Regions from separate parts of the Homo sapiens genome. Here region 1 is linked to region 2. The links come from fine-mapping of genetic effects on gene expression. Tissue or cell type: whole blood. Region 2 holds a variant in brackets; the other region holds the start of a gene. All regions are shown on one strand. Distances are from middle to middle.

Region 1 (8,102 bases), 35 kb before region 2:
CTTTGGGAGGCCAAGGAAGGTGGATCACTTGAGGTCAGGAGTTCAAGACCAGCCTGGCCAACATGGTGAAACCCCATCTCTACTAAAAATAACAAAAATTAGCTGGGCATGGCGGTGTGTGCCTGTAATCCCAGCTATTTGAGAGGCTGAGGCAGGAGAATCACTTGAACCAGAGAGGCAGAGGTTGCAGTAAGCCTGGGTGACAGAGTGAGACTCTGTCTCCAAAAAAAAAGAAAAAACAAAAAAAACCACGTATGCGTATATATGCCATACAAACTATATGAACCATTCGAGTTTTTTCCCATGATGATTACTACAATGGTTTTTAAAAAATTATATTTCCAAATAAGAGTACTCCAACTACTCGGTTTTGGTGCCCAGCTTGGTTGCACTCAGCGGCTACAAGGTAAACCCACCCCTTGTATGGCACTCACCCGTAAACGGCATATCTCAGAGGCCCACCGACATCCAGACTTCTAGAGTTTTCTTTTTTCCGCTTCTTCTCAATCATCTGGGCCAGGAAGTTCCCAAGTGCTGACAAAATGCCACTGTGGAGAGGGAGGTCATCAGAAAACAGCAGTGACCAGCAGGAGGGTGTCCCTTTCCCATAGGTGAATTAGCAGGGCCGTTCTGAGGCCATGCAGCAGATGGGCGGGGGGTAGGAATTCTTGTTAAAGCGGCTGCAATGTATAGTTCTTGTATCAAAAGGTGGAGACGGTGGACTTAAACACACAGGTAAGGACAAGTGGCTTTCCAGTATCTATGTCAACATCCTGGCTGTGATGTTATACTATAATTTGGCAGTTTGGGAGTTGGGAAGCTGTGTGGTTATGAACGGGCAACAGGACAGCCCTATCATGACGCTGTTCTGCATTTTGACTGTGGTAGTGAACACAAGAATGTACAGATGTGATAAAACTGTACAGAACAGATACAGCTACAAGAAAAATGGAGAAATCCGAATAGGATCTGTGGACTGTGTCCACGCAATGCCCTGGTCGATACTGCACTACGTTTCACAGAATGTAACCAATGGGGGACACTGGGAAGGTGTGCAAGGAATCTCTCCATGTTAGTCTTGTAACTGTTTGTGAATCTACAATTATCACAATAAAAATTTCCATAAAAAGGTGGAACAGGCCCAGTGGCTCCCTCCAGGCCTTGGTTTGTATTTGCCTTCTGAGAAGCTCTCTGGACTATAAAATCCAAAATTCCTAGCACGGACCTAGACACCTTCTCGATCAGATCCCTGGCGATTCCCTTCACATCTCCTGCCTCTTGCTCAGGGTTCACTTTCTCCACACACAGATCTTCCCTCCCTCGGGACTGAGTCCAAGCTGCACCTCTCTCCGCCTTTCTTTAACGCCGGCCTTCCCTTCAAAACCTAACAGAGACCTTTGCCCTGCTGTTCCCTGTGCCAGGAGAGCCTCTGCTCCACTTCTTTACACAGCCTGTTCAATGTCACCTTCTCAAAACACCTTCCCTGGCCGTGTCTCCACCCGCGCCGTGCGGACCCGCGCCCCGCAGACTCGCTCCCTTGGCCCTGTCTCCACACGCTCCATGTGGACCCGCTCCCCTGGCCCTGTCTTCACCCGCACCACGCAGACCCGCTCCCTTGGCCCTGTCTTTACCCGTGCCCCGCAGACCCGCTCCCCTCGCCCTGTCTTCACCCGCGCCCCGCAGACCCGCTCCCTTGGCCCTGTCTTCACCCGCGCCCCGCAGACCCGCTCCCTTGGCCCTGTCTCCACCCGCGCCATGAGGACCCGCTCCCCTGGCCCTGTCTTTACCCGCGCCCCCAAGACCCGCTCCCCTGGCGCTGTCTTCACCCGCGCCCCGCAGACTCGCTCCCTTGGCCCTGTCTCCACACGCTCCATGAGGACCCGCTCCCCTGGCCCTGTCTTCACCCGTGCCCCGCAGACCCGCTCCCCTGGCCCTGTCTTCACCCGCGCCCCCAAGACCCGCTCCCCTCGCCCTGTCTTCACCCGTGCCCCGCAGACCCGCTCCCCTGGCCCTGTCTTCACCCGCGCCCCCAAGACCCGCTCCCCTCGCCCTGTCTTCACCCGTGCCCCGCAGACCCGCTCCCCTGGCCCTGTCTTCACCCGCGCCCCCAAGACCCGCTCCCCTCGCCCTGTCTTCACCCGTGCCCCGCAGACCCGCTCCCCTGGCCCTGTCTTCACCCGCACCACGCAGACCCGCTCCCTTGGCCCTGTCTTTACCCGTGCCCCGCAGACCCGCTCCCCTCGCCCTGTCTTCACCCGCGCCCCGCAGACCCGCTCCCTTGGCCCTGTCTTCACCCGCGCCCCGCAGACCCGCTCCCTTGGCCCTGTCTCCACCCGCGCCATGAGGACCCGCTCCCCTGGCCCTGTCTTTACCCGCGCCCCCAAGACCCGCTCCCCTGGCGCTGTCTTCACCCGCGCCCCGCAGACTCGCTCCCTTGGCCCTGTCTCCACACGCTCCATGAGGACCCGCTCCCCTGGCCCTGTCTTCACCCGTGCCCCGCAGACCCGCTCCCCTGGCCCTGTCTTCACCCGCGCCCCGCAGACCCGCTCCCCTCGCCCTGTCTTCACCCGCGCCCCCAAGACCCGCTCCCCTCGCCCTGTCTTCACCCGCGCCCCGCAGACCCGCTCCCCTCGCCCTGTCTTCACCCGCGCCCCGCAGACCCGCTCCCCTCGCCCTGTCTTCACCCGCGCCTGCGGACCCGCTCCCCTTGCCGTGGCTTCCCCGGGCGCGCGGGGCCCCTGTTGGGTCCTTGGGTGGAACCTCAGCGCCGACCCCCGGGTCTGGGCGGGCCCTCCACGCGCTGGGAGGGCGGGATCCGCAAGGCGCCTCACAATCGCTGACTGCGGACGCGGGTGTCGCCGCGGGAAGTTCAGCGCCGGGTCGGAGGGCGCCCGCTCCGGGGGTTCTGACCCGGGCGCGCCCCCAGCCTGGTCCCGGCCCGGCGCTCCCGTCCAGGCCCCGCGCCGCTGCGGCCGACCTGGGGCCGGGGCGGCGTCCGATTCCCGCGCCCCCGCTCACCTGGTGGCCGCCTTGGTGAGCACCGGGTAGAGCCGCAGGAAGAGCAGGTACTGGGCGAGCGCCCGCCGCGGCAGCGCCCCGAGCCCGGCTTCGGCCCGCAGCCTGGACGCGGCCGGCGCCATCGCCTCCCCAGCGCCGTGCCGCCGGGGGCACCGACCCCACCTCAGGCTGGCCGGGCGCGGAGCCCGAGGCGCCGAGAGCGGAGTGGGGACCGCCTGACATTTCCGGCCCCACCGCGGCCCGCAGCGCCGCCCGGTCCCAACCCCACGGTGCGCCGCGCGCGCCTACCACACACTTTTCCCCGGTCCCTGCCGGCCACCTCCCCCGCCGGGCGCCGGCGCCAATTGGAGCGCCTCGGGGGGCGGGGGAGGGGCGGAGCGCGCCTCTTGATGGACGGCGGCATTTCCGGCTCTCGCGAGTCTGGGTGGGAGCGCGCCAAATTTCTCCCCTGAAGCAGAGGTGGTAGCCAACGGCTCCATGTCTCTGAGGAGCGGCGGGCGGCGGCGCGCGGACCCAGGCGCGGATGGCGAGGCCAGCAGGTGAGGGGCGCCCTCCTGAGGCTCTCGGGCCGGCCCTCCGGAGGGTGCCATGGGGCCGTCCTCGGCTGGCGCCGCCGAGGCGGGAGGGAGGCCCGGTTCCCGCAGCCGCCCGCACTCGCCGCGCCTGACTGGGGTAGGGCGGCGCGCCCCGACCGCCGACGGAGGGGCTCGGGGCGGGCGGAGGCGCTACGGGCGCGGCTTCTTTGCGGGGAAACGAGGCGGGCCGCGCGGCCTTTCCCTGCTCGGCTCTTTCTGAGGTTTTTCGGGCCTCGCCTTCCGCGCAGCTGCGTTTGGGACCTGCCGCGCGGCGGGGGCGATGAGAGCGGCGGGACCCGGGCCAGGCCCTGCGGGGTGGACGCGCGGCTGGGGAGGGTGCGGGGAGGGGCGGGGCCGGGGACCCTGCCTGGGGGCCTAGCGCTGGGGGAGGCCGAGGCGGGCGGATCGCTGGAGCCCAGGATCCTGTTCTAGATCAGCCTGGGCTACAGAGAGAGACCTCGTCTCCTCTGTTTTATTTTTTTGGGCAGGGAGTCCCGCTCTGTCGCCCAGGCTGGAGTGCAGTGGCGCGATCTCGGCTCACTGCAACCTCTGCTTCCCGGGTTCAAGCGATCCCGCTGCCTCAGCCTCCCGAGTAGCTGGAATTACAGGCGCCCGCCACCAGGCCCGGCTAGTTTTTGTATTTTTAGTAGAGACCGGGTTTCACCATGTTGGCCAGGCTGGTCTCGAACTCCTGACCTCAGGTGATCCGCCCGCCTCGGCCTTCCAAAGTGCTGGGATTACAGACGTGAGACTCCGCGCCCGGCCCTTCTCTTGTAAAAACAAGAAAAATTAGACAGGCTGGTGGTGCGCGCCCGAGGTCCCAGCTATTAATACTCCCGAATCCGAGCCGGAGGTTCACCTGAGCCCGGCAGGTCAAGGCTGCTGTGAGCCGGGATCGCGCCACCGCACTCCAGCCTGGGCGACGGAGCCAGACCCAGTCTCAAAAAAAATAGAGCAAGGATAAGACGCGGCTGCTTGGTGGCCAGAGCAAACGGTAAACATGACCGGAGGACTGGCCTGCCATAAGCAGAAAACGGATGAGGCCCGGCGCGGTGGCTCACACCTGTAATCCCAGCACTTTGGGAGGCCGAGGCAGGAGGATCACCTGAGGTCAGGAGTTCGAGACCAGCCTGACCAACATGGAGAAATCCCGTCTCCACTAAAAAAATACAAAATTAGCGGGGCGTGGTGGCGCATGCCTGTAATCCCAGCTACGCAGGAGGCTGAGGCAGGAGAATCACTTGAACGCGGCAGGCGGAGGTTGCGGTGAACCGAGATCGCGCCATTGCACTCCAGGCTGGGCAACAAAGAATGAAACTCTGTCTCAAAAAAAAAAAAATAGAAAAAACGTGTGAGAACGTGAAGCTTTTTACAGACACTTAGCTGAACAAAATTCTTCCCAGAGGAGAAACCAAGTGGTAAGGATCCCTAACTGCTGTTGTGCTCATCGCTGTCTGTCCATATCAGGCAAGCCCTAGAGAGGCAGGTACCCTTAGGGTCTACATGGTGTGTTGGAACTTGGAGCTTAGAGACGGTTACTGACTGCCCTGCTTCAGGACACAGGACTGCACTCACGTGCTCCACTCCACTGCCCTGCCCCAAGCTCAGTGATGGCCTCCAGGCAGGGGGAAGGCTGCTGCTGGGATAAGTACAAGTGATGGCTTTTACCTTACATGCTTTATGTGGGTTACCTCATCTCATCCTTAAAACAGTCCTGGGAGGTGAGTGTGCCCCAGGAGGCAGTGGGTGCTGTTTGCCTGCGTTTCTTCTTGTGTGAAATGGGGACACCAGTGGCCTCCCTCGTAGGGGTTGTCATGAAAACTGAATGAGAGCATATGTGGAGTACTGGGACGGTGTGATACAGTAACCAGTCAATGGTAGCTCTCTGTGAATGAGAGCCTGTGTGGAGTACTGGGACAGTGTGATACAGTAACCAGTCAATGGTAGCTCTCTGTGAATGAGAGCCTGTGTGTAGTACTGGGACGGTGTGATACAGTAACCAGTCAATGGTAGCTCTGTGAATGAAAGCCTGTGTGGAGTACTGGGACGGTGTGATATAGTAACCAGTCAATGGTAGCTCTCTGTGAATGAGAGCCTGTGTGGAGTACTGGGACGGTGTGATATAGTAACCAGTCAATGGTAGCTCTGTGAATGAGAGCCTGTGGAGTACTGGGATTGTGTGATACAGTAACCAGTCAATGGTAGCTCTCTGTGAATGAGAGCCTGTGTGGAGTACTGGGACGGTGTGATACAGTAACCAGTCAATGGTAGCTCTCTGTGAATGAGAGCCTGTGTGGAGTACTGGGACGGTGTGATATAGTAACCAGTCAATGGTAGCTCTCTGTGAATGAGAGCCTGTGTGGAGTACTGGGACGGTGTGATATAGTAACCAGTCAATGGTAGCTCTGTGAATGAGAGCCTGTGTGGAGTACTGGGACGGTGTGATACAGTAACCAGTCAATGGTAGCTCTCTGTGAATGAGAGCCTGTGTGGAGTACTGGGACGGTGTGATACAGTAACCAGTCAATGGTAGCTCTCTGTGAATGAGAGCCTGTGTGGAGTACTGGGACGGTGTGATACAGTAACCAGTCAATGGTAGCTCTCTGTGAATGAGAGCCTGTGTGGAGTACTGGGACGGTGTGATACAGTAACCAGTCAATGGTAGCTCTCTGTGAATGAGAGCCTGTGTGGAGTACTGGGACGGTGTGATATAGTAACCAGTCAATGGTAGCTCTGTGAATGAGAGCCTGTGTGGAGTACTGGGACGGTGTGATATAGTAACCAGTCAATGGTAGCTCTGTGAATGAGAGCCTGTGTGGAGTACTGGGACGGTGTGATACAGTAACCAGTCAATGGTAGCTCTCTGTGAATGAGAGCCTGTGTGGAGTACTGGGACGGTGTGATATAGTAACCAGTCAATGGTAGCTCTGTGAATGAGAGCCTGTGTGGAGTACTGGGACGGTGTGATACAGTAACCAGTCAATGGTAGCTCTCTGTGAATGAGAGCCTGTGTGGAGTACTGGGACGGTGTGATACAGTAACCAGTCAATGGTAGCTCTCTGTGAATGAGAGCCTGTGTGGAGTACTGGGACGGTGTGATACAGTAACCAGTCAGTGGTAGCTCTCTGTGAATGAGAGCCTGTGTGGAGTACTGGGACGGTGTGATACAGTAACCAGTCAATGGTAGCTCTCTGTGAATGAGAGCCTGTGTGGAGTACTGGGACGGTGTGATATAGTAACCAGTCAATGGTAGCTCTCTGTGAATGAGAGCCTGTGTGGAGTACTGGGACGGTGTGATATAGTAACCAGTCGATGGTAGCTCCCTGTGTGACACTTATCCCCATTTTTCAGATTTCTTACTGTCCCTGGATTAAAAGTGAGATACACAGCTCAGAGAAAGCAGTTTTGGGAGGAAATATGGTCCCAGTGAGCAGTTTTCTAGTCTACTTAATCCAACTTACTTGAGGCAAGGATATTTGGAGGACTGGCATAGAGGGCCGTGCGCCCCTGTTAAGAGGTGATGCCTCGTAAATAGCACTTCATTCACTCTTGATTTTGATAAAGATCTGGGACTCAGAACTGAGGCTGTTCTCTAGCAAGATTTGGAATATAGTTTTTCTGTGTTTTTGATTACGGGTGCATTCAACTATTTAAAAGATTAAACCTTTATTATACAGTATGGTGGTGTATCAGTTTCCTATTGCTGCAGTAACACATGATCACTTAGTGACTATATAAATTTATTCTCTTACGGTTTTAGAAGTCAGAAGTCGTAATATGAAAGTGTCTGGTTGGTTATATTTATTGTGATGGTTCCCGGGGGAGAATCTGTTTCCTTGCTGCTTCTTCATCTTCAGAACCAAGGGTTGCATCTCCTCTCCCCCCTACCCTCTCTCTCCCATCCCTTTCTCCTTCCTGACTCTAGCTCTCCTGCCTCACTCTACAAGGATTCTTGTGATTACACTGCGCCCACCCAGCTAAGCAGAATCTCAAGGCCCTTAATTTAGTCAGATCTGCAAAGACCCTTTTGTCTTGTAAGATAACATTCACAGGTTTGGGGGATTAGGATGTGGGTCTTTCATGGGGGGTGTCATCCTGCCTGCCTACCACAAGTGGTTATAATCTTTCATGAGAAGTAAGGATCCTAGTCTTGGAATATGGTCATTCTGCTCTTGAGTTGAAGGTGATCCAAGGAATACCTTCAGACAAAGGAAGGGTCTTCCTTTCTTTTTTTATCTTGTTCTTTTTTTATTTTATTTTTTTTTTAGACGGAGTCTCGCTCTGTCGCCCAGGCTGGAGTGCAGTGGCATGATCCCAGCTCACTGCAAGCTCTGCCTCCTGGATTCACGCCATTCTCCTGCCTCAGCCTCCCGAGTAGCTGGGACTACAGGCGCCCGCCACCACGCCCGGCTAATTTTTCGTATTTTTAGTAGAGACGGGGTTTCACCATGTTAGCCAGGATGGTCTCAAACTCCTGGCCTCAAGTCATCCACCCTCCTTGGCCTCCCA
Region 2 (8,102 bases):
AAAAGGAGTAAAAAATACGTATACCAGGTAAATGTTAACCAAAAGAAAGCTGATGTGGCTGTATTAATACCAGACAAAATACTCTTTAGGCCAAAAGTATTAGGAAACATAAGGACTATTGTTACATAATACTGAAAGTCACAATTCTCTGGAAATATATACTAATTGTAACAATGTAGCCTCACATTAAATAATGTAAACATTTACCTAATTATAAGAAGAATTTACCTCCAATCAGTTTGGGAGATGTTAACATCCCTCCCTCAATTGATAGTTGGAGCAGACCAAAAATCAGCAAAAATATGTTTGGAATGACACAATCAACTAACTAGATTTAGTCACTAGCTATAATACATTTAGTGAACAAATGTAGTCTTGCACTAAAATTAGAGAATACCTATCCTTTTCAAGAATACATAAAATAATGACCATATATATACCACAGAGTAAGCTGCAACCAATTCTAGATAACTTAAATACAGACCATGTTTGGAAATTTAAGAAAAAAAAAACACATTTATAACTTGTGGATCAAAAAAGTCATAGAACTTAGACAATACTTGGAACTGAATGTAAATACAAATGCTATTAAAATTTGTAGTATGCAGTTAAACAGGACTTGTATACGCATTTATATATCTAAATGCATGTATTAGTAAAGAAAAACAAATAGAAAATTAAGTTTCCAACTGAAAAAGTTAGAGAACAACAGATCCATCAGAGGAAGTAGACAGAAGTTATAAAGAGTTATAAAGGTAACCAGGCATGGTGGTGCACACCTATAGTCCTAGCTACTCGGAAGGCTGAGAGGCAGGAGGATTGCTTGAGCCCAGGAATTTGAGGTTGTAGTGGGCTATGATGGCACCTGTGAATAGGCACTTCACCCCAGCCTGGGCAACACAGGGAGAACCCAACTCAAGAAAGAAAAGAAAGAGGTTACAAAATTGAGCCAGAATGAGTGAAACAAACAATACAACCAAAATGTTGTTCTTTGAAAAGACTTAGGAAAATAGTCACATCTTTTTCTTTTCTTTTGAGACAGGGTCTCATTGTGTCACCCAGGCTGGAGTACAGTGGCGCAGTCATGGCTCACTGCAGCCTTGACCTCCCAGGCTCAATTGATCCACCTGCCTCAGCCTCCTGCATAGCTGGGACTATAGGCGCACACCACCACATCCAGCTAATTTTTGTAATTTTTTGTAGAGACAAGGTTTTGTCATGTTGTCCTGGCTGGTCACATCTTTTTCAGGACAGAGTTTTTTATTTTAATGAAAACAGACATCATTATAGATATAGTAAAGCCTAAAAAAATGGAAGGATTCCCATTTTCTGCTAAACAGTTGGAAAACATAGATGGAACGGACAGTATCCTCAAGTTATGCACTGACCTAAGAAGTAATAAAAACCTGAATAGAACTTTAACCATTACAGAAATTGACACTTAAAAAGAAACAGGCCAGGCGCAGTGGCTCACACCTGTAATCCCAGCTCTCAGGGAGGCAGAGGCGGGAGGATAGCTTGAGCCCAGGAGTTCGAGACCTGCCTGGGCAATATAGCGAGACCCCGTTCTCCACAAAAAGAAAAAAAAAAGAGACGAAAAAAAATAAGTGTAAAAGAAACATCAAACCCAAATGATTTTTAAGAGAAAAAGGAAAAAAAAAACCCTTAGCTCATTTGGTAACCTTGGCAATCCTTGTTACTTTGGTAACATAATTGAAAACAGGAAAGGAAAGTTACGGGCCATGAACAATAGATGAAAAAATATCAACATACATGAACAATAACAATATGACCAACTAGGACTTATGCTGGGAATAGCAAGCACTGTTTAATTTTAGAATTTGCCAGGTTAGTTTTTCTTGGGAGAAATCCACTAATTCATCATTAAAGGAGAAGGCTCGTAAGATCATCTCCAATAGATGCAGAAACAACATGCGGTAAAACTTTAACATCTGCTCATGTTAAAGTTTGAACAATCAAAATCAGAATAGATGAGATGTTTCTTAACCTGATAAAGTGTTCTTGAAACCTAACAGCAGACCTCATACTTAACCACAAAACACTGGAAGCATTGAAGTAAGGAGTAAGAAATGGATGCCTGTTAACCACTGCTTCTGTTCAAAACAGTTTGGAGATCCTAGCCAGCATAATTAAACCAGAAAAAGAATTAAGGATTGAAAAGGGAGACATCAACTTATTATTTACAGGCGATGTAATTTGTTAACAGAAAATGTAAGGAAACCTAGATTTTGTGTTAACTTATATGTATTTCAGCAACAATTAGATACCAAGGTAAGATATAAAAGTCTATTGCTTTCATTTATACTAGAAACAAAATATTTTTTGAAAGATACCATTTACAATAGCAATAAATAATGTACTAAGGAATAAATTCATGGTAACAATGTGTGTAAGACTTTTACAGAAAAAATTACACAACTTTTTTCTTTTTGAGACATGGTCTTCCTTTGTCACCCAGGCTAGAGTGCGGTGGCAAGATCATGGCTCCCTACAGCCTAGAACTCTTAATCTCACGTTATCCTCCCACCTCAGCCTCCTGAGTAGCTGAGACTGCAAGTGTGCACCACCACACCTGGCTATGTATTTTTTGTAGAGGCTGGGTCTCACTGTTGCCCAGGCTGATCTTAAACTCTTGGGCTCAAGTGATCCTCCTGCCTGGGCCCCCCCCAAAGCACTGGGATTACAGGTGTGAGCCACCATGCCTGGCCTATACACAACTTTATTGAACATATAAAAATTTACCTAAGTAACAAAAAGAGGTACCATCTTTACAGATGAAAGGACTCAGTATTAAAATATGGCAGTTTGCCCCATATTAATTCATAAAATTCAGTGTAATTCCAATAAAAAAGAATCTGCCAAAAGCTTTTTGGATAGAACTTGACAGACGAATCCTAAAATTCATATAAAGGGTAAGGATAAGAATAACCAAAGAATTTTGAAGAATAAGGAGGGCACGTTGATCTTACTATGTAACGAGACACACTATCATGGCATCTTGACAAGATGAGAGGAGAGCAGTAGAGCCGATTGGGAGCCTAGAAACAGACTCCCCTGTTAGTCGGAAGTTGGTAGGTCACAGATCGTTAAGGAGAGAGTGGACTGCAGTGAGTGATGCTGGTGAAAATGGTTTTTCATATTTGGAGAAGTAAGTTGTTGTATCACACTGAGTGTGAAACTAAGGCTGAGTGTGATGGCTCATGCCTGTAATTGCAGTGCTTTGGGAGTCCAAGGAAGGAGGATCAGTTGAGCCCAGAAGTTCCAGACGAGCCTGGGCAACATAGGGAGGTCTCGTCTCTACAAAAAAAATCCGGCACAACATTAGGCATGGTTGTGCATGCCTGTAGTCCCAGCTACTTGGGAGGCTGAGGTGGGAGGATCACTTGAGCCTGGGAGGTTGAGGCTGCGGTGAGCCAAGATGACCACTGCACTCCAGCCTAGGTGACAGAGCGAGACCCCTGTGTCTTTAAAAAAAAAAAAAAAAAAAAAAAGGAAACTACAATCTTTGGTAAACAACTCAGGAGACTATGATGCTGGGGTGGGAAGGGCTTTTTTAAGGCACATGTGAAAAACATCACAAAGGGAAAGAATGATCAATTAATTAAAAGTTAAATCTTGTGTAGTCTGTGACAAGAAAGGCAGAATGTTGATAATTGTTGACACTGGTGATAAGAACATGGGAGCTCATTACTGTGCTTTCGTGTATGTTTGAAAACTTTCCTGATAGGAAGTCAACACACACAAACTTACATGTAGCACAGAAGTCACCATGAAACAAAGGCCTGAGTCACATTTTGAAGATGTTTAGAATGTATAAAAGTTAGAAATGGCTCATAAACGTGTTAGCTATCTATTGCTGCATAGCAAGTAACCCCAAAACTTAGCAACTTAAATGCACTCGTGTATCCGAGGGCTCCACTGGAGAAGGAGCCACTTCCGAGCTCCCTCCCATGGGGATGGCAGGACTCGGTTCCTCCTTGGCCTTTGTCTGGACGTTATCCTTAGTCCCCTGCTCCATGGGGCTCTTCACAGGACAGCTCACAGCATGGCACTGGACTTTTGAGAGAGTGCCAGCCAGGCAGAAGCCACAGTGTTTTATAGCTGCTCTCAGGAGTGGCATTCCATGACTTTTGCTGGAATCTGTTCATTACGGGCAAGTCACCGGGTCCCACCCCCACTCAGGGAAGGAGTCACACAGGGTGTGAACACCAGGAAGTGGGGGTCGTTGGGCCATTTTGGGAGCTGCCTGCACAGGGCCAAGATGTTCAGCCTTACTGTTGATGAGGTAAATGCAGCATGATGTATTTAGATAGCAGGTCACACTGAAGGCAAGTAAGTGTGGTGGCATCAAGTAGCAAGATTGTGGGAAGTAGGAAATCCCTGGTGCTAGAGGTGGAGGTGGTTGTTCTCCGGGACCAGGCAACACATACAGAGATGGTCATTGAGTCACAGTTTGTAGTTTTGAAAAAGTAGGCGCTTGTCATTCTTCATTTGCAAAGTCATGGGTAGGTAGGCTGATGTGTTTATATGATAAATCATTTCACATCAGTTACAATGAACGAACCATATGTGCATGTTTCACCCGGTGTCAGTCTCAAAAATACATGGCTGAATAAAGAAACAAGTTGCAGGGACAGGCATGTGGCTCACGCCTGTAATCTCAACACTTTGGAAGGCTGAGGTGGGTGGATCACTTGAGGTCAGGAGTTCGAGACCAGCCTGGCCAACATGGTGAAACCCCATCTTTACTAAAAATACAACAAAAAATTAGC[C/T]GGGCTTGGTGGCAGGTGCCTGTAATCCTAGCTTCTTGGGAGGCTGAGGCAGAATTGCTTGAACCCAGGAGGCGAGGTTGCAGTGAGATGAGATCGTGCCATTGCGCTCCAGCCTGGACAACAGAGTGAGATTCTGTCTCAAAAAAAAAAAAAAAAAAAAAGGAAACAAGTTGCAGTCAGATGTGTCCCACATGTTACTATTTAGGTTAAAACTTACAGCTGTGGCATGTGTCTGTGGACATGTGGTAAAAATTTAAAGGTGTGTGGGGGCAGACAGAAGAGGGCTGTACCCATTATTTGCAATATTTTCTTTCTTACAAAAAGCATTCTGGAGCAAACATGGCAAAATGCAAAGATTTACTTATTGGTGGTATTGAGTGACGTTTTATTTTTCGGTTTGATCTTTTCACTTTTTTTTTGAAAGAGGGTCTCACCCTCTCGCCCAGGCTGGAATGCAGTGGCGCAACCTTGGCTCACTGCAACCCCTACCTCCTAGGCTCAAGTGATCCTTCCACCTCAGCCTCCCAAGTAGCTGGGACCACAGGCCCACACAACCACACCCAGCTAATTTTTCTATTTTTTGTAGAGACGGAGTTTCACCATGTTGGCCAGGCTAGTCTCAAACTCCTGGGCTCAAGTGATCCGCCCACCTCAGCCTCTCAAAGTGCTGGGATGACAGGCGTGAGCCACCACACCCGGCCTTCACTATTAAAGGTTCAATAAACTTGTGTAAACGAACATCCCATTTCAGGTGATATACTTATACTAGATTTCGAGAAGTAGAATTTGTGGGGATGAGATCCTGAGATTTTTGTTTGCTTGTTTTTATGAGGCAAGGTCTCACTTGCCCAGGCTGGAGTTCAGTGGTGTGATCATAGTTCGCCGCAGCCTCCAACTCCTGGGTTCAAGTGATCCTCCTGCCTCAGCCTACCAAGTAGCTTGGGACTACAGGCGCACTACCACGCCTGGCTAATTTGTAATATATTTTGTAGAGACAGGGTCTTGCTGTTACCCAGGCTGGTCTCAAACTCCTGGCCCCAAGCAATTCTCCTGTCTTGGCCTCCCAAAGTGCTGGCATTCCAGGCATGAGCCACCCTGCGCAGCCCGAGATCCTGAGATTTAAGGCTTCACTGGGTCTTTCCAGGTCACGATGGCCGAGGCCTCAGAAGACAGTCCGAGGCCAAGTGCTCCTGACATGGAGGACTTCGGCCTCGTAAAGCTGCCTCACCCAGCAGCCCCTGTCACTGTGAAGAGGAAGCGAGTTCTTTGGGAGAGCCAGGAGGAGTCCCAGGACCTCACGCCGACTGTGCCCTGGCAGGAAATCTTGGGGCAGCCTCCCGCCCTGGGAACCAGCCAGGTAAGGCACACAGCTGTGATACTGTCTGTCTCTGAGGGGTCTGCACAGCCCAGGGAGCCCGAGATGCGTCCTGACCCCTAGGGAGGCTGCTTGTGAGAAAGTCATGGCGGGCATTCCCATCTCACCACTTGCACACTGGCTGTGCTCACCATCCATCCCAGGAGGAATGGCTTGTCTGGCTCCGGTTCCACAAGAAGAAGTGGCAGCTGCAGGCCCGGCAGCGCCTCGCCCGCAGGAAGAGGCAGCGTCTGGAGTCGGCAGAGGGTGTGCTCAGGCCCGGGGCCATCCGGGATGGTCCTGCCACGGGGCTGGGGAGCTTCTTGCGAAGAACTGCCCGCAGCATCCTGGACCTTCCGTGGCAGATTGTGCAGGTATAGACCTTGATCCAAGGGGAGGGCAGTGGCTCTGCTGATGGCCCAGGGAGGGGGTGTCCAGCTGGGCCCTGAGGTCTGGGATGGGAGGGTTAGAGTGGGCCTGGAGTTTCCTGCCCATCGTAGGGAGGCCTAAGGCCCTGTGCTGGGAGCTGCAAGCTACCTGGAAGGTGGCCCCGTCTGTGGGTTCCAGTGTGTCCTGTGATGTGCTGTATGTCCGTGTGGCCTTTCAGATCAGCGAGACCAGCCAGGCCGGCCTGTTCAGGCTGTGGGCGCTCGTTGGCAGTGACTTGCACTGCATCAGGCTGAGCATCCCCCGTGTGTTCTACGTGAACCAGCGAGTCGCTAAAGCGGAGGAGGGTGCTTCGTATCGCAAGGTAGGGAGGAGCTGGTGCTGCCTCTGCAGTCATCTGGGCAGCCTGAGGTGGCTTTCCCATGATCTAGCCTGGCCTCCAGCCTCCATCTCCTCAGTACCTTATGGGGATGTTCTAGGAATTCCTCAAAACAACGTGTGTGAGCGCTGAGCACCGAGCCTGGGGCAGAGCGAGTGCCGGGAATGGAGCTGCTGGTGTCCTTGTCACGATGAGCTTGTCTGCCCGCGAGGTCCATGTTGCGGGGACAAACCAAGTGGCATTGGTTAGAGATTGTGAACTCTGTCTCCGTAGGCTCTTTGGTTGTTAACAGCTTTATTGGGATGTAAAGTTACGCCATCCAACTCACCCATTTAAAGTGCAGAATTCAATGACTTTTAGTGGCATGACTATTGCCAGTCAATAGTGACATTTTCTTTTTTTTTCTTTTTTTTAATTTTACTTTGATTTCTGGGATCCATGTGCAGAAAGTGCAGGTTTGTTACATAAGTAAGCACATGCCATGGTGGTTTGCTGCACCCATCACCCCGTCACCTGGGCATTAGGCCCCACATGCATTAGCTGTTTATCCTGATATTCCCCCTCCCCTCACCCCCCCATTCGGATATTTTCATCACTCCAAAAAGAAACCTGGCATCCCTTACCTGTCACCATCCTCCCCCAGCCCTCAGTAGCCACTGATCCACTTCCTGTCTCTGGGTTTGCCTGTTTGGGCATTTGATGTAAATGGAACCCTACAGTAGGTGGGTCTTTGTGCTGGGCTTCTTCCACCTGCAGAAACTGCGAGGGTTTTCATGTGGCCATGAGTGCGCTGAGGCTCTTAGATGGCATCTCCACCCGAACTCCCCGTTGTTAATGTGTCGGCTCAGCACATTTCTTGACTGGATGCTGTGAATCACGTAAGAAGTGACACGTAGTTGGGGAGATGAGGTGTGCATATTTGTACCTACACAAGGAGGTTTTCTGGAGAAGGTGAAACTCGATTCCAGCCAGGTGATTCAGTAGAATGTGCATATAGAAAGTAGACGCAGAGCCAGGTGTGGTGGTTCACACCTGTAATCCCCGCACTTTGGGAGACCGAGGTGGGCGGATAACAAGAGGAAAGCGGACGCAGAGGCATCGAGACCACAGAGAACAGGTGGGACTGTGGGGTTTCTACACCTTCCTTTCGATGCGTGGTGCTGTGGTGCTGTGGCCGTGTGGAAGTGCC

Evidence for each region. PIP is the estimated chance that this variant, and not a neighbour inherited with it, causes the effect.
Region 1: POLE starts here. The variant in region 2 is fine-mapped to the expression of POLE in whole blood (TOPMed, PIP above 0.99).

What each region holds. Positions count from the first base shown.
Region 1 is chr12:132,682,709-132,690,810 of GRCh38, reverse strand. It overlaps POLE (DNA polymerase epsilon, catalytic subunit), which reads left to right and starts at 3,469. Exons shown (of 49, transcript NM_006231.4): 1 at 3,469-3,557. The coding sequence starts at 3,496. PXMP2 (peroxisomal membrane protein 2) reads right to left here and starts at 3,224. Exons shown (of 5, transcript NM_018663.3): 1 at 3,019-3,224; 2 at 435-548. The coding sequence starts at 3,140. RefSeq lists a silencer at 2,709-4,018.
Region 2 is chr12:132,647,725-132,655,826 of GRCh38, reverse strand. It overlaps POLE (DNA polymerase epsilon, catalytic subunit), which reads left to right. Exons shown (of 49, transcript NM_006231.4): 30 at 5,938-6,150; 31 at 6,312-6,521; 32 at 6,755-6,898. Among named protein-coding and RNA genes, the nearest start is that of P2RX2, 33 kb to the right of the region's middle. The variant C/T (reference allele first, on the strand shown) is at 4,794.